Homo sapiens: one gene and its partners. The protein of the gene in region 3 interacts with the protein of the main gene of each other region in a pairwise test. Each region holds a gene or a part of one and is shown on either strand. Other genes may lie near its edges.

Region 1 (8,511 bases), on a different chromosome or scaffold from region 3:
TCTTTCTTTCTTTCTTTCTTTCTTTCTTTCTTTCTTTCTTTCTTTCTTTCTTTCTTTCTTTCTTTCTTTCTTTCTTTCTTTCTTTCTTTCTTTCTTTCTTTCTTTCTTTCTTTCTTTCTTTCTTTTTTGGCAGGGTCTCACTTTGTTGCCCAGGCTGGAGTGCAGTGGTTGAAGAACATGGTTTACTGTAGCCTCAATATCTCAGGCTTAATGTGGTCCTTCCACCTCAGCCTCCCAACTAACCAAGACTACAGGAGCATGCTACCATGTCAAGCTAATTTAAAAAACTTTTTTTTTTTCTTTGAGATGAAGTCTCACTCTTGTCCCCCAGGCTGGAGTGCAATGGCACAATCTCGGCTCACTGCAACCTCTGCTTTCCGGGTTCAAGCGATTTCCCTGCTTCAGCCTCCCAAGTAGCTGGGATTACAGGCGCCCGCCACCACACCCGGCTAATTTTTGTATCTTTAGTAGAGACGGGGTTTTACCATGTTGGCCAGGCTAGTCTCGAACTCCTGACCTCAGGTGATCCACCCACCTTGGCTTCCCAAAGTGTTGGGATTACAGGCATGAGCCACCGCGCCAGTCAGGGGAGGCTCTTTGTTAAGAAAGAAGACTCCATATTGTAAACTTCCACAGGACTAACAGCATGGATGATAACGTGATTAACAGGATTATCATGGAGGTGACATAAGATGGCTCAGGAGCCAGGCTGATGGGTTTAGGTCCTGGCTGTGGTAGATGTCACAACACAGTGCCCTTCCCATACCCCTTTAGCCACTCCTGATGTTTTTTTACTATAAGCCCCTGGGATTTTCTGCCTGAGGGTGCTCTCTGCTCAGAAGGCACTCCGGCAGGCTGGAGGTGCCAGGAACAGCTCTCAACTAATGAAGAAATCATCAGTGTCATCACTCCTTCAGTGGGATGAGTACCTTGTCTTCTTCACTCTCCCAGAGATGCCCAATACAGTCAAGCCCCATTTGTCCACAGTGGTAATCTGCTGATTATTGCACCCTATATTGCTTTTCTTCATTTGTTTGTTTCACTCCCCCTCTCTCCTACTAGTGCTCCACGGAATCATCTCTCAAATGGACCATTTATATGAACATCCTTATCTCAGTGTCTGCCTCTGGGGATACCCAGCCTAAAGATAGTGGTTCTTTTATTTCTTAGATCTATCCATCCAATTTCCTTGGGCAGATCACTTTACCTCTCTGAATTTCACTTGGCTCATCTATAGAATATGGATAGTATCACTTCTTTCTTTCTTTCTTTTTTTTTTTTTTTGAGACCGAGTCTCGCTCTGTCGCCCAGGCTGGAGTGCAGTGGCGGGATCTCGGCTCACTGCAAGCTCCGCCTCCTGGGTTCATGCCATTCTCCTGCCTCAGCCTCCCAGCAGCTGGGACTACAGGCACACGCTCTCATGCTCGGCTAATTTTTTGTATTTTCAGTAGAGACCGGGTTTCACCGTATTAGCCAGGATGGTCTCGATCTCTTGACCTTGTGATTCACCCGCCTTGGCCTCCCAAAGTGCTGGGATTAGAGGTGTGAGCCACTGCGCCCGGCCCAATAGCACTTATTTCTTAGGATGGTCATGCAGTTTAGCATTTCACTCAGACATTAAAAGTTCAGTAAATACTTCTATTTTTATTCGTTTACTGGCCTGTAACATAAATATTCTCCCAGAGACTCTTGGATGGACATGCCTCATTCAGGCATAGCTAGGCAGGGAAAGATAAGCAGCCTGGAGCTGGCCCTGTGGGACATTGATTGATTGGGTTCCTGTTCCCAGTTACTTGCTCCCTCTGCAATGGGATTAAATGTCCCCACCATTTGTCATGTGACTTATCTGGCATCCTGTATGGGTAGCATACCTCCCTGACCCCCATGAATTAATTTTGGGCTTACCCATGTGACTTGCTTTGAGTAATGGCATATGAGCAGATGTGACATTCTCCACATCTGCAAAGAAGCTTGAAATGTGTTACTGCATGGTTTGGCACAGGCTCTCTCACCCCTGCCCTCCACTACAACAAAGACATGTCTCCAGTGCCTGCCACGCAGTTTGAGCTAGCACCTTTAAATACTTTATTTATTTATTTTTTTGAGAGGAAGTCTTGGTCTGTCGCCTAGGCTGGAGTGCAGTGGCGTCATCTAGGCTCACTGCAACCTCCACCTCCTGGGTTCAAGGGATTCTTGTGCCTCAGCCTCCTGAGTAGCTGGGATTACAGGTGCACACCACCATGGCTGGCTATTTCTGTATTTTTAGCAGAGATGAAGTTTCACCATGTTGGCCAGGCTGGTCTCGAACTCCTGACCTCAAGTGATTCGCCTGCCTTGGCCTCCCAAAGTGCTGGGATTATAGGCGTGACCCACCGTGCCTGGCTTAAATACTTTATTTTTAATTTTTAAAAATTGTTTTATCCATCTATTTACAGATCATTAAATACTTACTGTGTACCAGGCAGTCCCATATGTTACATGTGTCTGCATGTATTAATTCATTTCATCCTTGCAGGAACCCTAAGACACGGGTCCCATTATCACCATCCTTATTTTACATATGTGGAAAACTAAGGTTCAGTGAGGATTAGTACCTTCTCAAATTCACACTGCAGGGAAGGGGCAAGGTCTGCCTTCTAGGTTGATATTCTTAACCACTGCTGTATGCTTCTTCTCATGGTAGGTAACCAGCAAATGCCTATTAAGTAAACGTTTGTTTAAGTGATCATTGTTCCCTTCCATTTACCTGAATAGGAAAGGTACAATCTACTGGGACAAAGGTGGGCTTCTGACTTTGGACCTGCTCACTCTTCCTACGTTAGTTGTTTATCAAATAGGAGACCCTTCTGATTCTTCTGAGTGGAGAAAAATTGTCCGTGGTCATCAGACGGGAACCCCAATATTTCCCTTGTAGGACCTACATGAACCACAAGATATCTCCTATAAATTCCATGTGGTTTCCAGACATCTTCCTTGTGGATCCCAGTGTGGACCTCAGATCTCTCTCCTAAAGGCCTATGTGAACCCCTATATCTTTCCTGAGGCCCACATGGACTCCCAACATTTTCCCTGTAGCAGCCACACTTGATAACTTCGACAGGTTCCCAGTTGTCATCTCATTGGCTGCTCTCCACAGCTCTGTAAATCAGCCTTGGCTTGCATTATAGCAGGGAGAGACAGCATGTGGGTCAACCAGGGACAGGACTGACACAGAACCCAGTTGTCCTGCCCCGAAGCCCAGGACCCTTCCTTCCTGGTTGGCCTGGTGGCAGGATGATGCTTCCTGCTCAGCCCTTCCCAGGCACCGAGGCTCTCTCCCTCCTTTTCCCCTCTGCCACACTAGTTCTTGTCTGCCTTTTTTCACTGCCACCCCCTTTTCATGCCAGCTGTGGGAGTGAGGCCCCACTCCTGGCAGGATGGAGCCAGACAATGGGCCCTTATTCTAGGCAAAGAATCCCTGCAGTGTCTCCCACCCACTGAGGCCCCCTTCCAGGCCTAGGATGGTGTGGGTGGGGGGTGGAGGGTGGGTGTATGGTGTAGGGGAAGGAGCAATTGGCTGGCAGGACAGACAGTGGCCCTGGCCCTGCCTGTAGAGATCCCACGGAGGTTTACTATGTAAACACCAATCACAATAAAATCCTGTCTTCACTCCCAGCCCATCTCTCCAAGTGGGTCTCTCTCAACCCTCCAAAGCTCTGGGTTTTTAAACATTTACCCTTGCCTCTACTCTCTCTTGGTATTCATCTCTGCATATCACTGTCTCTTTCATTCCTTTTTCTGAGTCTCTTTCTTTTTCTAAGCCTCTCCTCTCTCTCTCTCTCTCTCTCTGCTCCTTTGCGTAATTTGTCTCTATTTCTTGCCTCTTTCTTGCTTCATTATGCTCCCTTACCTATCTTATCTTTCCATGTCTTTTTTCTCTCCAGGCCTTGAGCTCTCATCTCAGTCTCTCTCTCCGTGTGTCTCTGTCTCTGTTTGCAGCTCTTCTTTCTCGTCCTCCTATGTCGTCTTTCCGTGGATCTGTGTCCTTGCCTCTCTGAATATCATCTCCGATCTTCCGTCCTCTGTTCTCTCTTTCCCCCTGCGCCTGCAGATCTGAAGGACCTTCCGCAGTCACCACACTCTCCTGCTTTCAGCTCTTTCTCACTCCTTTCTGGCACGTCCCAGAGGCTCCTGGCATAGGTATAGGAGGTTATTCTCCCCAGTTTACAGATATGGAAGCTGAGGCTCTGGCTGCTGGTGCCAGGCTCCCATCTCTGGGTCTCTTCCTTCCACCTACACGCCAGGCTCTTGTCCCTGAGGTGCCCGTCAACCACCTGATCCGGCCGGGGCCCGGGAACTAGCACCTCGGACAGCTCCTGGAAGATGCCGGGGCGGCCGGGTCGTCCTTCTCGCGAGCTCAGGAGGAGCAGCCTTAGGAGCAGAGCGGAAGTCTCGCGAGAGTGACTGCTGCAGGCAGTGGCGGCGCGGGCGCGCGCAGAGACGGCCTCGGGCGCGCGCGCGCGCGCGCGCGCTCCCCGCCCCCAGCCCCGGAGCGGCTCGCGGCCGGCTCCGCGCCGCATCGCTCGGGTGCAGCGCAGCTCAGCGCAGCGCTGCGGCCTTTCGGCAGCCGAACGGCCGCGGCAGGTGAGTCTGGGCATGAAGGCTGGGAGGAGAGCTTTGAAGGGAAGCTGGGCGCGGGGCGAGAGGTGTGGGGGTCGCTGGCTGCAGCTTTGTTCCTCCTACACTTCACCTTTGGATGCAGGAAGAAGGCCGAACTGCTGGAGAGGTGGGAGTGGAGGTGACCTTTACTGTTTGGGGCTGGGGGAGAGCGCTCAGGGCGCACCCAGGCCCCCCGAGCCCCCCAAGCCCCCCCATTCCCATCTGTGGCTCCCGCAGAGGGAACTGGGCCTTTGGGTGACGTCAGACCCTGGATCTGGAGCCTGAGCTTTGGGCCCTCCATCCCCCCCGCCAGCCCCACCTGGCGTTCCCTGGAAACCGGCCTTCTGGAGATGGCGTGCGCAGCCGGGGATGGGGGCGACTGGAAGGGGGTGCCCGTGGCTTCCTTTGGGCCTTTCCTTCCAACTAGCGCCTGCAGGTGGACCCGGGTTGACTTCCCTCACCTCCCTCGGGCGGCCGACCTTTGGATGGCGGACCTCAGCCGCCCCAGGGTTGCGAGGCGACGGGCGCGCTGGCCCAGGCCACCAGGCGGGCTCCATCAGGGCTTTGGGTGGTGAGTTGGGGGCGCCGGATTTGGCTCATTTCAACGCTGGCCGGAGGTCACGAGGATGGAGGTGAGGTGTTTGTGAACCGATCCTTGTCCTCCGCCTCGGGGAGCTCCTGGTCTGTGGGTTGGGGGAACCAAGTAGAGACTCGGACTGAGCATTCACTGTCACAGGCGGCTTAAACAAGTAATGTCCCAGCTTCCCGATGGGGAGATCAGTGAGGGCCTGGCAGACTTTCCCAGGGACACAGAGAGAAAGGGAGGCGACAGCTAGCGAATAGGAGACTTCCAGAGGTGATGGGATTTGGGTGGGAGGAGAGGCAAGAGAGGGCATTCCAGGAGAATGTATGGGCAAAGGCACAGGGATGAAAACGAGCACAGCTGTTGGGGGCTGAGCCTGGGAGCTCAGCCATGTGACTGCCCATGGGGTGGTGGAGTCTGGAGAAATTTGCAACCTGTCCCCTACATGTTCTGCCTCACGGAGCAGGGCTCTGAAAGAGGGAGATGGTTCTTGCAGGGGCATGATTGGCAGAGAGATTTTGTTTGGGGCTACACAGGTCTTGCTAACTTAGGTTTGTTCTGGGCTTGGTGAGCCTTAGGGCAAAGTCTCTAGAGCTGAGAGGGGGCTGTCTCTGGTGAATGGGCCCCTGAAAGAGGGTCTTAGGTTTAGCAAACCCCTTGGAGAGTTAGTGGGGTCCCAGGAGGGGAGTTCTAGAGAGAGACCTTGGGCTCTGTGGCTGTTTCTTTAACCGTTTCCTGAGTGGCCACCTCCAAGCAAGTTCCCCAAGTCACCTCCCCTCTCTGGGCATCTCTTTCTAGCACCTTTCTCTAGAGATGAAATAATAGGACTAAGTAGTGACCTCCCTTGAGGATGCTCCTTGTTCTAGTTTAGAGCATCCCCCCTTTCTTCTCCCTCTTCCTTTTCCTTTCCTCCCCTATCCCTCTGCCTCCCTGTCCCTATCCCCACCCCTTGCCCCCCACAGCATTTCCTTTACAGGCTGCACTTCCTTCCCTGCTGCCAGCCAGGAGTTTCGGAAGGTTTCCTGGAGGAAGTGTGATACAGCAGGTTTGACAGCAGCTTTGGGCTTAATCTGATTGGGGGAGGGCGTTAATTGCCTCCCTCCCACCCATTGGGAAAGTGTCCAAGTCTTAAGCAAGTATATGGATTGACTGTGCTCTGTGCTGGGTCCCTCCTGGAAACTCCATCCAGGAGGGAGTGAGGAGATTATGGGAGAAGACGTGAACACTTAGTGCCCAATGACTGACTCAAAATGTATGCAGCGGGATGCAGAGCAGCGATTTTTGGAAAGGCTTCCCAGAAGGGGTGGGATGTGAGAAGGTAGCAGGACTTAGAGGAGCTGATAGTGCTGCCAATTTAGGGGCACTGGAAGCAGAGGGGGCGGCTAGAGATGATCTCCTGCATGAGGCTGGGAGTGTAGGAGGCAGGTCAACCTGTGAGCAGCCAAAGGTGGTGGGAGGGAGGTTTGTAGCTGACTGGCACAAAGCCTTGAATGCCAGGCAAAGATCTGTAGGAGGCTACTGAATAGTCATCAGTAGGACAGGGACAGCATGGCCAGGAGACTGCTGTTTTCTGAGGATTATTCATAGTTCTGGGATTTCAGGGCAGAAGATGGGGCTAGGAGTGGGATGAGGGGATTGGAGGTAGAGCAGGAGGGGGAAACTTCCATCTTAGCAGGTTGGCTCTGGGCAGCAAAAAGGAATCACCATTTCTGTGCCAGGGATGAGGGGCCCATACTGGTGAGCAGGGAGCCCTGGAGTTAGCCCCAGGACTCTGGCCTGATCTGAAGCCAGGCTTGACCCTCGTCTGCTGCCAGAGGCCTCAGTCTCCCCACTGTGGGGGCTTCTGTCCTAGCTTCACAATAAGGAATGGAATACATTATAGTTAGGGTTTCATGAACAAAATTCAGGTAGTAACTGCTATCTTATTGATAATTAAGGTGTTTCCCTAGGCCTACATCTTTGGAGGGATATGTAGCCCTTATCCCCATTATAAAAGATTATCAGTTGAGCAGATTGCTAATTCTTCTGTTTTGTAGTCTAAGAACTTTGGTTTGGCCGGCGCGGTGGCTCATGCCTGTAATCCCAGCACTTGGGGAGGCCGAGGCGGGTGGATCACCTGAGGTCAGGAGTTCGAGACCAGCCTGGCCAACATGGTGAAACCGTGTCTCTAGTAAAAATACAAAAATTAGCCAGGCATGGTGGTGCACGCCTGTAATCCCAGTTACTAGGGAAGCTGAGGCAGGAGAATAGTTCGAACTTGGGTGGAGGAGGTTGTAGTTAGCTGAGATCGTGCCACTGCACTCCAGCCTGGGCAACAGAGTGAAACTCCATCTCAAAAAAAAAAAAAAAAAGAACTTTGGTTTGCAGAGGCCAGTGATTGCTGTCTTCCCCTCCAACCCCCCACCCCCCATTTCAAAGGCTTCCCAGAAACAAGGGCAGAGAAGCCTGGAGCCTTCCATTTCTGTGACCCTAGTCTTTTACCACCCTCTCAAGCCCCAGATTCTCTCTGCCCTAACCTTTATATACAAACAAGGCAGCTTTGCCCTCTGCTCTGGTTTCTGCTCTGAATTATTCATACTTTGCTGCACTGACTTCTCTGGAACTGTAAGCAGACTTTTGGGAGATTGTCTGGGACCAGGGACAGGGGTTAGGCTGGAGCCCGGTTAGGGAGAAGACTCCTCCTTTGAGGCCCCTATGTTCTAGTTGTTTTCTCCTCTCCCTCTGCTTCCTTGTTTTCCTGGAGGTCTTTAGTGCTGGACCACAGTCTCCCACTCCATGTCCCATTGTCTCAGGGGAGGTAGTGCCTCTTTCAGTCACCATTTTAACCAACTACATCTGAATGTGGTCCTCATTGGCATGTGGCCACCTCTGAAATCTTAAACTCTAGTATTTCTCTCTGACCACAGTCTAACTAATGCTTTATGTGCTCTGACCTCAAGGAGACCTCTAGTTCTCAGACACCTCCATTTTCTCCATCTCATGAATTGCCTCTTCCGTGTTCTTTCTGAACTCCATGCCCTCAACCACTTTGCCACTTTGCCTGTGTGTCACCCGAGCTGCCAGGAAGGGTCTCCAGTCTCAGCCATCCCTTCATCACTTATAGAAACCCCTCTCCTCATTCCCATCAGTTCCCCTTTCTATTCCATGGGAGGAGTATTCCAAACTGGACTACTCTCCCCAGGCCCTTTGCTCATGTAGAGGGTGGTTGGGGTGTGTGTGGGGGAGGTGGAACCACCCCCATGTTTTCCCGAGGCGGAGCTTGCAGTGAGCCGAGATCGCACCACTGCCCT
Region 2 (7,046 bases), on a different chromosome or scaffold from region 3:
TCAGGTAACGTGATGCCTCCACATTTGTTCTTTTTGCTTATTCTTGCTTTGGCTACGCGGGCTCTTTTTCAGTTCCATATGAATTTTAGAATTGTTTTTTCTAATTTTGTGGAGAATGATGGTGATATTTTTATGGGAATTGCATTGAATTTGTAGATTGCTTTTGACAATATGGGCATTTTCACAATATTGATTCTCTCCATCCATGAGCATGGGATGTGTTTCCACTTGTTTGTGTCATCTATGATTTATTTCAGCAGTGTTTTCTAGTTTTCCTTGTAGAGGTCTTTCACCTCCTTGGTTAGGTATATTCCTAAGTATTTTTTTTTTTTATTTTTTTGCAGCTATTATAGAAGTGGTTGAGTTCTTGATTCGATTCTCAGCTTGGTCACTGTTGTTGTATAGAAGAGCTACTGATTTGTGTACGTTAATCTTGTATCCAGAAACTTTGCTGAATTCTTTTATCAGTTCTAGGAGCTTTCTGGAGCTGTCTTTAGGGTTTTCTAGGTAAACGATCATGTCATCAGCAAACAGCGACAGTTTGACTTCCTGTCTGATTGCTCTGGCTAGGACGCAGTCTCTGTTCTTAACCTCTGAGTATTGCTGCCTCCGAGCCTGGAATGCAGTGATGATGTTTTCTGGGCTTAACAGAACATTCACATCCACCCTCTTTTCTCATCTGAAAATGTGTGTATAGGGGGCAGGGGGCGTTGTAGGAATAGAGTGAGAAGTGAATCTCTGTGAAGACAAATCCGGCAGCTTTTGGGCAAAGGGAAGCAAAGGCAGTTTAAACTCTTATCCTGTAGCAGAAGGACACTTGGCTCCCATTGAATTATCTGGAAATCTAAGGACTGGAAAGATGCACAGAGGCGCAGGAAAGGAGACCTCGAATCCGGGCCGTGCGACTCGGGAGAAGTCAGTCCTGCCCCGGACTCGGCCTCCCACTCTGTCCAGGGGTTTGGGGTCCTGCATCCCAGGGCCTCTCCAGCATTGACAGGCTGCGATGGTGGGTACTGGGGAGATTCTGACTCAGTATGTTTTTATTGAACTCGGTACTCTTTCAGTTAGGTAATTTATTTTCCCCAAGACGCCCATGGGTTTTTGAAGTATGAGTTGAACATTAACAACACTGTGTCAATTGAATTAATGGTTAAAAGGTTTAATAAGACTTTCTGTGTCTGTTTTCAATTTCCTCCACAGGGACGCGAGAGACAAATTTTACAGGAAACCATTCACAACTTTCACTCTTCCTTTGAGAGCAGTGCCAGCAACACCAGGGCCCCTGGCAACAGCCCCTGTGCGTGATCCTCCTTCCCGCAGCCACCAGCGTGAGCTCTCTGAATCCCGGGACCCCTTCACGTGGCCACAGCCCCAGCCCTGCCCCCGTCACACTGCTGTGCCTTAGTCATGTTGTTCCCTTTGCTCGGGATGCCCACTTCACGTCGACGGCATTCATTGGTAGTACTTCTTGCTGCAACAAACTTCAACACACAGAGACAGATTCCCATGTAACAGTCCAGTGGGGGTGCTTCTGCTTGGCAGGTTGGTTCACACAGTGATGCAGGGACTCAGCTCCTTTCATCCTGTGCTCTGCCCTCCCCGGGAGCCTCAGAGTTTGCTTCTGGCTGGCGGCAAGGGAAAGGGACGATGGAGAAGGCACGGCTGCTTCTTACCTGCCTTGCTCTTAACTGACACACATCACTCCTGCTCACGTCCTCTTGGCCACTGGTAGTCATGTGGCCCCACCTGGATGCAGAGGAGGCCAGGATGTGCAGTCTCCACATAGTGGCTTCCCAGCAACAACTTTTGACTTAGATGGGGGGTATGTATTATGGTGAGAGGTTAGCCTTCCTGGCACATCTTCCCTTAAAACTTCTAACTTGCCCCTCCTAGTCCAAGTCACCTCTCAGATGAAGTCTTTTTTGACCCCCTTTCAGCCACTGGGTCCCTTAGTGCTGTGTATGTGACTGCTGTAGCATTCCACTGCACCTGCTGCATACAGCTTACATTGGAGATGTGTATGTCAAACGCATTTTTCTTTATTGCAAAGAGAGTCTATTATAGAAGGAAAGAAGTGGAGGCCTGCTGTGTGGATCCCTTCTTCTTCCTAGCTTTCAGTTTCCTTATCTGCAAAGTGGAAGGTCAGACCAGATGATGCTCTGGTACTCCACAGTGCTCACCTGTATCACTGCAGGGCTTTCTGCACTGAAAGTGGAAGCAGAAGGCTAATGGGTCACATTGTGTAAAGGTCTCTGGTGCTCAAAGTTTCTAGGCAAAGAAGTGAAAATTTGGAATTTTGTCTACATCCTATTAATGCTGTGTTCCTCAAAAGGGAATTGGCTTGTGTAGTTTCCTACCATATCATATTTTATTAAATTAGAGGGGCCCTGACTTTTAAAACCCACTGGCTTTCTGAAGTGTTTTCCAGTGAATGACTCATTCAGCCAGTGCTTGTTGCATTTATGTTAGCTACCAGGTGCCAAGTGTGCAGACACAATACAGAGCCTTCAGGCTCTCGACAGGCAAGAGAACACCTGTAAATAGATGGTCCCGACATTGAGAGGCAGCATGGTAGAGTGGGCAGACCTTGTGCTCTGGACTCAGGTTCAAAGTTCAGATGAAGCTCAATGGCCTCTTAGTTGGAGCTTAGAACCAGTATGCCCAAAGTGCTGGGTCTGCAGGAAGTACCCAGTCGATGGTAGGCTGCACAGAATTCTGATCTCTACCTTGAGCCATGCTGAGCCACAAGTTGGTCTCCTTGGGAGGTGCCATCTCTCATCTGTCCCTCCCCCAGCCATGAAAGCCCATTCCCCTATGCTGGCTTTCAGAGGCTGTCGTTAACTTACTGCCCAGAGCCTCGTAGTTTTCTTCCCCTGCCCTGATGGTTGGGTGTTTTTCCTTTAAATTCTCTCAGCCTTACACTCACAGAAGCCAACTTTCCACAGGACTGAAGACAAAGTGTTTCATTTAGCTGTTACTGATAGACACCTTTACAAAGGTTACTAATGTCCCAGCCTTTTTAAGGAGACACACTCATTCATCCCCTACTATGTGCTGGCAGCTTTACCTTTGTCATTTCATCCTCATGGCCACCCTGGAGGTGGCATTGTGTAACCTCATCTTGCACATTCGGGAAACGGATGCTTAGGAGAGGGAAGCAGCTTGCCAGTTAAACAGCCCAGAAGGAGCAGATCTGGGGTCAGAACCGGACCTGGTGGGCTTGCAAGCCTGTGCCTTTTCCACTAACTCCTATAGACTCCTGGAGCTAGAAGCACTTGTGATTCTTGTTTTAATTTACTGATGGCTTCAGGGGTTAACAGTAGGCCTAGAATTGTTTGCCTCTGAAATTCATGGCCCCTGACGTTATGTGCTTTGAGGTTTTGTGCCTGCTTTTTGCTGTGGTCCTGTTTTTTTCATAACAATATACTGGTATAGCTTCCACTCAGGTAAGTTTGATTGAACAATGATACACAGCTGCACCGGGGGGTCACCTTTTCACAAATGTAGACCTCCATGAACTCATTGGATGACCCTGGACAGAGCGGGGCTATTCCCATTTTGCAGACAGGACAGCAGAGGCTCCAGACAATGCCTTTCCTTTCTTTTTCACTGGACTCAAGTGTCCAAGGCTTTTCATCCTAGGAAGTTTGTGTGCTGGTTCACAAGAGGTCCCTGGCACCCTTTCTGGGGATGTTTGGATGCGGCTGGTAGGCAGGGAAGAGAAAGGGCACCCCAGCGGGGGCATGTGTGGAGGCAGCACGGAACATGTAGGTTATAGATCGTCAGGGAGGAGGGGTCAGTTGGGTGCTTGTTTTTCTGATTTTTGGTCCTTGATCACCCCCTTCCCTTCCCACACGTGTCCCCAGCCTGCCTGTGGCTGTTCCCCCCACAAGAAGCACCTCCCTTGCTTGGCAACCTTCACCAGCATTTCCCAAAAGTATGCTCCTGGGAACCCTAGTTCCACAGGATAATAGGTTTTTCATAAAGAAACGTAGGGTGTGTATGTGAAAGTGGGGTGAGGTTCCCTGGTTGAGTAGGTTTGGCAGACACTAAAGCGAGCTACACGATCATCTTTGCTACAGGCCTCTCACAACCTTCAGCATGCCAGCATGGGTCAGGCCTCTTCACAGGGCCAAGAAACTCATAGCATCTCCCACATTACTCTCATCACTTCTCCAAGGTGCTTTTGCAAGACTGGAATTCCTTGGACACCATTGGAGAAGCCCCGCTTTTTCTGGAACAGCGGCAACCAAGAGGCCTTGCAGCCCTGGAAGTGGGTCAGGGCCCTTGGTGGTCACCTTTTTCTCCCCAGCAGCTCTGCAGAGGTGGCCTGCTTGGCAGTGGGACATCAGGGGACCGGTCCTGCTTTGAGATGGCAGGGTCCCTGTTCTGAGAGCTCTCCAGCCTGAGGGCATTGAGCTGAGGCTCCACCCTGAGCTCTCCTGCAGGGTGGAGGGCATTGTTTCCCAGCACCCAGGCAGTGTCTTGCTGGTGTGTCGTGAGTGCTGGATGTCCAAGTCCCTGCTGGCCACGGAGGGCTCCTGCCTCTCTTCTTCAGCGCCACAAAATTACATGGAGGCCAGCTGGTTTTGTGAGGAGATTGTTTATTTTTTAATTCTTTTGTTTACCGAACGTTTACTGAGCATCTACCCTGTGCCAGCCCTACTCGTACGCTCTGTCTCCAAAGATGAAAAAGGACTTCTCTGCCCTCAAGGGAACCCCACAGTATCTTAGAGGAGACAATCATGTCGGTGAGATGGTGTGGTGATGAAGCCTGCTGGGTATACAGCTCAGGGAAAGTCATCGATGATGGCTCAGGCTCAGCCTGGGCACGCCCCAGAGGAGAGAGATGGAGTGGGGCCTCAAAGGGCAGGTTTAGGCAGAAAAGAAAAAGGGCATTCCAGCTGGGGCATGTGCAAAGGCAGCACGTAATGTGTAAGTTCTAGATCGTCAGGGAGGAAGGGTCAGTTGGGTGCCTGTTTTTCTGTTTTTAGTCCTTTAAAATGAGTAGAAGCAACCTGTTACCCTGGAAAGAGCACTGGACATAGACCTAGTGCTGCGTGATGTTGAGCACGTTTCTTCTTCCCTTTGAGTCCCAGTTTCCCTTTTGGTTACAGGGGGATAGTAGCCCCCAGGGATCATGTGAAAGTGAGAAAGCCCTTTTCACACTGTGGAGCGGTGCAGATGTGGGAAACCTCAAAGATGGTTGCCCATTTTAAATCCTTTCATCTCTCATCTCTCTTTCTTCTCTCCCTTCTGCCCTGACGTAGCCATGGTTGGGTGGGTGAGGCCAGAAGAAACTGCCTCCGGCAAGAGGTAGCAGCCGCTCAGGTGGCTCTGCTGGCATCGGAGCCCACAGAAGTGAGGAGTGGCCGATGGACCTGCCCTCCAAATGTGCCTGACTCTGGGTCTTGCTGTCACTGGATTTCCTGGCATGGCAGACAGAAAGAAAGATAGTTTGACCAAGTCGTAGAAGCTGATCCAGCGGGTAAAAAGGGGGCAGGGAACTCGTCCCTTTTATTCTTGCCTCAGAGCTGCCTGAAGACATGGGCCAGGCCGGAGGCTGGACAACTTTGGATAACGCTGACCTGTACTTCCAAGTAAATGCCTCCTGAAGAGCCCGGGACCCTTCCTGGGAGAATTCTGCAGCCAGAATGAAGGTGCCATCAGCAGGAGGCACTGTGAAGCACCATCCTGTCGCTGTCCTTGTCCATTCCTAGCAAGTTAATCGTGTCTTGTTAACCAGCAGTTCCTGTTCAACGTGTAAAGAGACCTGATGTTTTCCCTAATAAAGCTGATAACAGATTTTGCAGGACTGGCTTGCAGAAGGAATCTCCCTGGGTGAGGTGGGTCCTCTGGCCTCAGGGGGCTCTGCTCCTCCTTAACATGCAGCCTAAGAGTGGATTTAGACCCTGCCTTAATTTCAGCCCCCCAGCTGAGAATCCAGTCCCAAAAATAACAGTTGTTGTTGCCAAAGCTTGGGAATGATAGAAGGGAAATCCACACAGAATCACGGGTAGTGAGCTCGAGCACAAAGCCCAGTTCATTGTCCTCGGCTCCCCTCCCCGGCACTGCGCTTCCTTCCTAAGGCTGAGACCACCTCTCCCTGCCCTTGAGAACTCCCTTTGCTCCAGGACCCCCGCCAACTTGGGGCCCTGCCCAGCAGAGTGGAGCCATCTCGCATCAGCATAGGGACCTCCCAGGTTCCCATTTCCTGCTGGAGCCCTCTCCAAGGCTGAGACACAGGGCATGGCCATCCTTGTGTCGGAGACCCTGTCTCCACCTCTAGGTTTGGCCTTCCCCTATAGGGCCCTCACTAGGGCCAGTGTATTCACTGCCAAGAGTCTAGAATGCCATTTTAGTTTCTGCCCAAGGGAGTGTCTATTTTCCTCACCATAGACACTTTTTATTATTTTATTGTTATGTTTGTGCAGGGACTTAATTCTTTGAAAGATTATTGTTTGTCGGCCTGTGTATATTAAATGATGTAAAGTTATCTTCCCACTTTGACTACATTCATCCAAGGTGTAAAACACTGCCCAAATTCCTGCCTGTCATGGCTGCTATGGAGCGAGTCCCTGGGTCTGCCAGGCGCAGCTTCTAGAAGTCACCTTGCCTCATCTTCACAGGAACCCTGTGAGGCAGACTGAAACTCCTTTTTCTGTCAGTATGGTGACTGTGGCACACAGATGCTAACCAACTTTGTTGAGGTCACACAGCTGACAAGGGACAGTCTGGTCTGAGTGCAGGCCTCACACTCTTCCTGGTGTCTTGCTGCGTGTCGTCAGCACAGAGGGGAACGTGGAATTTGAATAAGCCCAGGCAACAAGACAAATGAAACCTGTTGTTTAGCCTCTGCAACTTGTTCACAATTTGAAGCCTCTAACTTGTTCATTTGGAGAGGAGGGCTTCTGAAAGCTATAAATAGCCTAGTGATTCTATTTCTTTTAGGAATTCTCACAAGTGGCCTGGCACGGCGGCTCATGCCTGTAATCCCAACAATTTAGGAGGCCGAGGCAGAAGGATCGCTTGAGGTCAGGAGTTCA
Region 3 (7,999 bases):
CAGCAAGTCACTTTTTTTTTTTTTTTTTTGAGACAGAGTCTTACTCTGTCGCCAAGCTGGAGTGCAGTGGCGCGATCTTGGCTCACAGCAACCTCTGCCTCCAGGGTTCAAGCAATTCTCCTGCCTCAGCCTCACAAGTAGCTGGGACTACAGGCGTGGGCCACCATGCCCGGCTAATTTTTGTATTTTTAATAGAGATGGGGTTTCACCATGTTTGCCAGGATGGTCTCGATCTCTTGACCTCGTCATCCACCCACCTCGACCTCCCAAACTGCCGGGATCACAGATGTGAGCCACCGCACCTGGCCGACAGCAAGTCACTTCTAAGCAAACAGCACTTAACATTCCCTCTTTTCTGATGACATATCCTAAAAAGTGAACAGCACTTAACATTCCCTCTTTTCTGATGACATATCCTAAAAAGTGAACAGCACTTAACATTCCCTCTTTTCTGATGACATATCCTAAAAAGTGAACAGCACTTAACATTCCCTCTTTTCTGATGACATATCCTAAATACTGATTTTTTTTTTTTTTTGAGACAGTCTTGCTCTGTCCCCCAGGCTGAAGTGCAGTGGTGCAATCTCAACTCACTATAACCTCTGCCTCTTGTGTTTAAGCGATTCTTGTGCCTTAGCCTCCTCAGTAGCTGGGACTACAGGTGCGCACCACCATGCCTGGCTAATTTTTGTATTTTTAGTACAGACAGGGTTTCGCCATGTTGTCCAGGCTGGTCTCAAACTCCCGGCCTCGAGCAGTTCACCTGTCTTGGCCTCCCAAAGTGCTGGGATTACAGGTGTGAGCCACTTCACCCAGCCTGATTCAATTTTTTAATTGTACATTTTAAAATAACTTAAGAGTGTAATTGGATTCTTTGTAACACAAAGGATAAATGCTGGAGGGGATGGATACCCCATTCCTCACATTGTGCCTATTTCACATTGCAGGCCTTATGAAAACATCTCATGTACCCCCTAAATGTTTACACCTACTATGTACCCACAAAAAATTATTTAAAAAATAAATATTGATTCAATTTTTCTTTTTATCTTTTTTTTTTTTTTTTTTTTTTTGAGACGGAGTCTCGCTCTGTCCCCTAGGCTGGAGTGCAGTGGCGCCATCTCGGCTCACTGCGATCTCGGCTCACTGTAACCTCCGCTTCCCTGGTTCAAGTGATTCTCCTGCCTCAGCCTCCTGAGTAGCTGGGATTACAGGTGCCTGTCACCATGCCCGGCTAATTTTTGTATTTTTTTAGTAGAGACGGGGTTTCACCATGTTGGTCAGGCTGGTCTCGAACCCCTGATCTTGTGATCTGCCTGCCTCGGCCTCCCAAAGTGCTGGGATTACAGGCATGAGCCACCACGCCTGGCCTCAATTTTTAAACAAGCATAAATGAATGTGTGAGATACAAGATAAGTAAATATCCTTTTAGGTTTGACTTTCATGTAATAGAAGAGGGGGAAAAAGGCCGTTTACCATTGAAAGGATGAAAAAAGAGACCTGAACTAGAATAGAACGTAATGGGAATGACAAGCTTGACTGGACACAAAAAGGATGAAATTGTTTCTTATGGTGACACATAATGGCAATAGAAGGCTAAGGAAAATAGTATATACCATTTGTGTGTGTGTGTGTGTCTGCGTGTGTGAGATACTGTTCATGTGTTTTTATTTCATGGTATTCTTTTCCATCCTGGGTAAATATGTCTTTTTACATTTCTTGGATACTCACAGTATCCCTGTAACATTCCTTTCTTCCTGCCAAACAAATCCAGTGATTGTGAAAAACCTCTCGTGGAAGGTTCAAGCATGTTTCAATAAATGAAGGATTTTAATTCAGTGAATTTGCAGAAACAAGGAAAGCATTTATAATGAAGTGTTTATGACTCCAGGCCTCTGGATATCTAGTGAGGCTTTTATGACTTGAAAGTAGGAAACACATAATGAATACAAGAAACAACACACAGCTATACACACTTGAGTGCTGAGTGTCTCAAATTCATGGAAATCAAAAGAACAGCATCGAGGCATCAGTAAATGTACCCTATTACACGAAGCACAACACAGCTGTCGGCTGGAAACCAGAATTCAATAATGTGCTCATGGCTCGCTTTCGAACATTTTTTTCCCCTTAACTGTGAATAGATTCTTAAAAAAACAAAGGTGTTCAGAGAAAGGCATCCCTGGCACCTTCAACCCATGCAAATGCTAGCCTCAGATACTCATTAGCGACTCACGTGCGAGAGCAGGTGCGTTTCTGGAGTGTCAATAACACTTCCTTATATTTGGAAAGGGCAAGGCATAAATCTTACAGGTATTTTCAGGAAACAGATTCTCAAAACTAGCCTGAGTCATCTGTGAGAAAAGAAACACAGTGGACCCTGGGGCAATATAAATATGGCCTTTTAAATTATTATTATTATTATTATTATTATTATTTTGGAGACAGAGTCTTGCTCTGTCCCCCAGGCTGTAGTGCAGTGGCGCGACCTAGGCTCACTGCAACCTCTACTTCCTGGGTTCAAGTGATTCTCCTGCCTCGGCCTCTGGAGTAGCTGGGACTACAGTCACCTGTCACCACGCCCAGCTAATTTTTGTATTTTTAGTAGAGATGAGAGTTCACCATGTTGGCCAGGCTGGTCTCGAACTACTCCTGACCTCAAGTGATCTGCCTGCCTCGGCCTCTCAAAGTGCTGGGATTACAGGTGTGAACCACGCCCAGCCTTATTTTTATTTTGTATTATTCTCTTTTTAACTGACAACTCTGCCTTATTAAATATGCTTTGTGAGTGGAAAACACACTATGAAGCCGGGCATGGTGGCTCACGACTGTAAACCCAGTACTTTGGGAGGCCGAGGCAGGCAAATCACTTAAGGTTAGGAGTTCGAGACTGGCCTGGCTAACATGGTGAAACCCCGTCTCTACTAATAATACAAAAGTTAGCCTGGTGTGGTGGCATGCACCTGTGCCTCAGCTACTCAGGAGGCTCAGGCACAAGAATTGCTTGAACCTGGGAGGTGGAGGTTGCAGTGAGCCGAGATCATGTCACTGCACTCCAGCCTGGGCAACAGATTGAGACTCCATCTCAAAAAAACAAAACAAAACAAAATAATACTATGATAGTGGCCCTAGTAAGAGGAAGTCTTTTTACCTTAAAAAGCCACACACAAAAAGGGATGCTGTGGGAAACCAAGGAAGACACTGCCTTAGATAGACACAAAGCTGAGGCTGGAAAACATTTACTTTGGGAGCTGCAATTGCTTTCCTGTGCAATAATCAGGACACAGGAGGAAAACAGGAGATCCTGGAGCTTGATTTCTACGTATCACATTTCATTCTGGCTCCTGGCTGGCTGGCTGGGTTCTGGAGCACGGGAAAGGAGTGGCATGCTTCTCTGTTCAAGAAAACACCCAGGGCTCTCATGTTTGTGCCAGAGTCTGCCATTACCGTGAGCCTGAGTTATGAGGGTTCAAGAGACTGGCAGTCTAGTTCTTGGACCTAAATTCCAGAATTAAACTTTTTATTGTTAACTGGCCCCCAATCTCAATAGACAAATCCATCTAAGTAACAAAAAGCTCAGTGCATTAAGGTTAAATTCCAGTGACTCCAAAATAATTTTGGCAAGCTACTCTTATCAGTTTTTAAGTGGAAAAATAAACAGATAACCAGCCTATCTGGAATGTAGAGACAATTTGGGTAGTATTTATTCTTATGAAAATGAGAGCAGCTACAAAGGGCAATGCTCAACATTGCATTTCCCATTTTTTTCTCCCATGAGGGACAGAGTCATGTTAGAAACCCTGAGAAAATATGACTCTTCACCAAGTGGGATTCTGCTACAAAATGAACATGCCGGCCGGGCACGGTGGGTCATGTCTGTAATCCCAGCACTTTGGGAGGCCGAGGCAGATAGATCAGGAGGTCAAGAGATCGAGACCATCCCTGCCAACATGGTGAAACTCCATCTCTACTAAAAATACAAAAATTAGCTGGGCATGGTGGCGTGCGCACCTCCCAGTAGTCCCAGCTACTCGGGAGGCTGAGGCAGGATAATCACTTGAACCCGGGAGGCAGAGGTTGCAGTGAGCTGAGATTGTGCCACTGTACTCCAGCCTGGCGACAGAGTGAGACTCCGTCTCAAAACAACAGCAGCAGCAACAACAACAAAAAACCAAAATGAACATGTTTAGCCAAAGTAGGTTTACAATTGAAATCTGCATCCCGAGGCTGTTAACAATTATTTGGTAACAGAATTATTCTTATTATTTCCTTTTTTTTTTTTTTTTTTTGAGATGGAGTCTTGCTCTGTCACCCAGGCTGGAGTGCAGCAGCACGATCTTGGCTCACTGCAACCTCTGCCTCCTGGGTTCAAGCAATTCTCCCTGCCTCAGCCTCCTGAGTAGCTGGGATTATAGGCACGTGCCACCACACCCGGCTAATTTTTTTGTATTTTTAGCAGAGACAGGGTTTCACCAGGTTGGCCAGGCTGGTCTCGAACTCCTGACCTCAAGTGATCCACCTGCCTCAGCCTCCCAAAGGGCTGGTATTACAGGCATGAGCCACCACACCTGGCTACTTTAGTAACAGAATTATTAAAGAAGCAGAAATGCTGGGGTATACTGTCTAATGGGACTATTGGGATTTCTTGTTCTACCTCTGGGCATCTTCTGCTTAGGTGCTTACATTTGTAGATCTTTTGGGTGGCAATTAACCTTAGGGGCTGTGCTCACAGATAAGCCCTTTGGCTGTTTCCCAAGTTTCTCTGTCTGGGAGTAGATGAGTCCAATACCAAACTGAGAAGTGTGTTTCCCAAATACGCTTGCCTAATAGACATGGAGGTCACAGAATGAGAGATGGGGCATAAAACATCTATTAGTGGAAGAAAATTGAACCTATGCATAAAATGCATTTTCATCCAAAAAGTATTTTTTATTTTTTTATTTTTTATTTTTATTTCTTATTTTTTGAGACAGAGTTTCTCTCTTATTGCCCAGGCTGGAGTGCAATAATACGATCTTGGTTCACTGCAATCTCTGCCTCCCGGGTTCAAGTAATTCTCCTGCCTCAGCCTCCTGAGTAGCTGGGTTACAGGCACCCACCACCATGCCCAGCTAATGTTTTTGTATTTTTAGTAGAGACAGGGTTTCACCATGTTGGCCAGGCCGGTCTTGAACTCTTGGCCTCAAGTGATCTACCCGCCTCGGCCTCCCAAAGTGCTAGGATTACAGGTGTTGGCCACCCCAACCGGCCCAAAAAGTGTTTTTGAGATGCAGTGACCTGATGTATTTGTGCACCTGTTGTGTATCATGGACTCCAATTTGGCAATATAGACAGTTACCTTGTCCACAGCCCAGGAACTGCTGTTGGACCACTTACCTTGTGTACAAATTGTTCCACTCTGGTCTGAAGCCCCCAGACCTCAAACTTCACAGTCACCAGCTTGTAGGAGCACATGATAGGCTGATGACTATCTCTCCAGCCTTCCCTCAACTGTCCCCGTCCTGTCTTCTCTGACTTGAAGTGCTTAGGATCCTAGAAAAAAAAAAATCAAAGAAATTGATATATTAAAAGTTTGACCATCATTATTAAATGTCAGGAATAAGTATTAAATAACATAGAAATAGGGCTGGGTGTGGTGGCTCACGCCTGTAATCCCAGCACTTTGGGAGGCTGAGGCGGGCGGATCACCTGAGGTCGGGAGTTCAAGACCAGCCTGACCAACATGGAGAAACCCCATCTCTACTAAAAATACAAAAATTAGCTGGGCATGGTGGTAATCCCACCTACTGCCTATCATCCCAGCTACTCGGGAGGCTAAGGCAGGAGAATTGCTTGAACCCGAGAGGCAGAGGTTGTGGTGAGCCAAGATTGCGCCATTGCACTCTAGCCTAGGTAACAAGAGCGAAACTCCATCTCAAAAACAAACAAACAAACATAGAGACAGAAAGTAGATTAGTAGTTGACATGGATTGAGGAAAGGAAGGGATGTAGAGTGATTATGAATGGATATAACATTTCCTCTTGGAGTGATGAAAACATTCTGGTATTAGACAGTGGTGACAGTTGCACAACCTTGTGCATATGCGAAAAACCACTGAATTGCACATTTATTTAAAAGGGTGAATTATATTGTGTCTCAATTTTTTCTTTTCTCTTTTTTTCTTTCTTTCTTTTTTTTGAGATGGAGTCTCGCTCTGTCGCCCAGGCTGGAGTGCAGTGGTGCGATCTCGGCTCACTGCAAGCTCCACCTCCCGGGTTCACGCCATTCTCCTGTCTTAGCCTCCCGAGTAGCTGGGACTACAGGTGCCCGCCACCACGCCTGGCTAATTTTTTTGTTTTTAGTAGAGACGGGGTTTCACTGTGTTAGCCAGGATGGTCTCGATCTCCTGACCTCGTGATCTGCCCGCCTCGGCCTCCCAAAGTGCTGGGATTACAGGTGTGAGCCACCGTGCCTGGCCTCAATTTTTTCTTTTCTTCTTTTGTAGAGATGGGTCTCACTATGTTGCCCAGGCTGGTCTCCAACTTCTCACCTCAAGTGATCCTCCCTTCTTGGCCTCCCAAAGTACTGGGATTACAGGTGTGAGCCACCATACCTGGCCTCACGACAGCTTTAAATACAGGAGGCAAAAACTGGAAACAGTCCAAATGTTCATAAGCAAGAAACTAGACAGATAAATTGTGGTCTAGGTGCACAATGGAATACTACACAGCAATGAAAAAGAACAAATGGCTGATACATGCAAAAACGTGTACAACTCTCACTGATGCTATGTTAAGCAAAAGTAGCCAAATGCAATAGCATATACATTGTATGATTCAAATTGAAGTTCAAGAACAAGCAAAACTTTATGTATGGTGATAAAAGTTAGATGAGCAGTAATCTCTTTGGGGGTGGGGGCTTGGTGCAAAGGGACATGAAGGAAACTTCTGGGATGATTATATGTTGACCTGGATGTAACGTGTACACATTCACTGAGTTTTACACTTAAGATTTGTATTATACTTCAATTACAAGAATGAAAAAAACAGGTAAAAGGGTTTTTTTGTTGTTGTTGTTTTTGAGATGGAGTCTTGCTCTGTCACCCAGGCTGGAGTGCAGTGGTTTGATCTTGGCTCACCCCAACCTCTGCCTCCTGAGTTCAAGCAATTCTCCTGCCTCAACCTCCTAAGTAGCTGGGATCACAGGCACCCGCCACCATGCCCAGCTAATTTTTGTATTTTTAATAGAGACCGGGTTTTGCCATGTTGGCCAGGCTGGTCTCGAACTCCTGAACGCGAGTGATCCACCCACCTTGGCCTCCCAAAGTGCTAGGCCTCCCAAAGTACAAGCATGAACCACTGTGCCCAGCAAGGGTTTTTTTTTTTTTTTAAGTTTAATCATCCAATATTTGTCTAATGATTGCCATTAGCCAATCATTTGCTGATTATTTCATTAGAAGATTATTTTTTTCAGAGATACCTTAGAACATGTAAACTATATAAAACCCAGTAATTATGCTTAAATATGTATGTATGAGCTAATTTTCAGTACTTTTTTTTTTTTTTTTTTGAGAAAGGATCATGGCTCACTGCGGCCTTGACCTCCCAGGCTCAAGTAATCCTCCTGCCTCAGCCTCCCAAGTAGCTGGGACTACAGGTGCACACTACCATGCCTGGCTAATTTTTGTATTTTTTGTAGAGATGGGGTATTGCCATGTTGCCCAGGCTAGTCTCAAGCTCCTAGGCTTAAGTGATCTGCCCACCTCGGCCTCCCAGAGTGCTGGTATTAAAGGCGTGGGTCACCGGGCCCAGCCAGTTTTCATTATCATAAAGAAGACGTGCAGCTGCTCCAGGATCTGCTGTCCAGCTGTGGGTTTGGGGCTAGTCCTGGTCCTGTTCACGGGGATGTTGGACCCCAGGAAGGGAAAGAACCTCACAGCACACAGCGGAGTCTACAGGCTGAAGCAGAAAATTGGCATCTCCCCTCCCAGGAGAAACCTGGCAGTCAAGGGGTCCTGTG

Evidence for each region.
Region 1: the proteins of PITPNC1 (region 3) and SCAMP5 interact in binary tests that used the Homo sapiens proteins (3 or more experiments, as listed by UniProt).
Region 2: the proteins of PITPNC1 (region 3) and ANKS6 interact in binary tests that used the Homo sapiens proteins (3 or more experiments, as listed by UniProt).

What each region holds. Positions count from the first base shown.
Region 1 is NC_000015.10:74,991,051-74,999,561, forward strand, and holds the start of SCAMP5 (secretory carrier-associated membrane protein 5), read left to right. Parts: upstream 1-4,512; 5' UTR 4,513-4,623; intron 4,624-4,971; exon of another isoform or gene 4,972-5,264; coding exon of another isoform or gene 5,265-5,270; intron 5,271-6,183; exon of another isoform or gene 6,184-6,266; intron 6,267-8,511. UniProt on the Homo sapiens protein: Required for the calcium-dependent exocytosis of signal sequence-containing cytokines such as CCL5. Probably acts in cooperation with the SNARE machinery.
Region 2 is NC_000009.12:98,730,778-98,737,823, reverse strand, and holds the end of ANKS6 (ankyrin repeat and SAM domain-containing protein 6), read left to right. Parts: intron 1-1,200; coding exon 1,201-1,305; 3' UTR 1,306-5,815; downstream 5,816-7,046.
Region 3 is NC_000017.11:67,667,041-67,675,039, reverse strand, and holds part of PITPNC1 (cytoplasmic phosphatidylinositol transfer protein 1), read right to left. Parts: intron 5,533-7,999; coding exon 5,377-5,532; intron 1-5,376.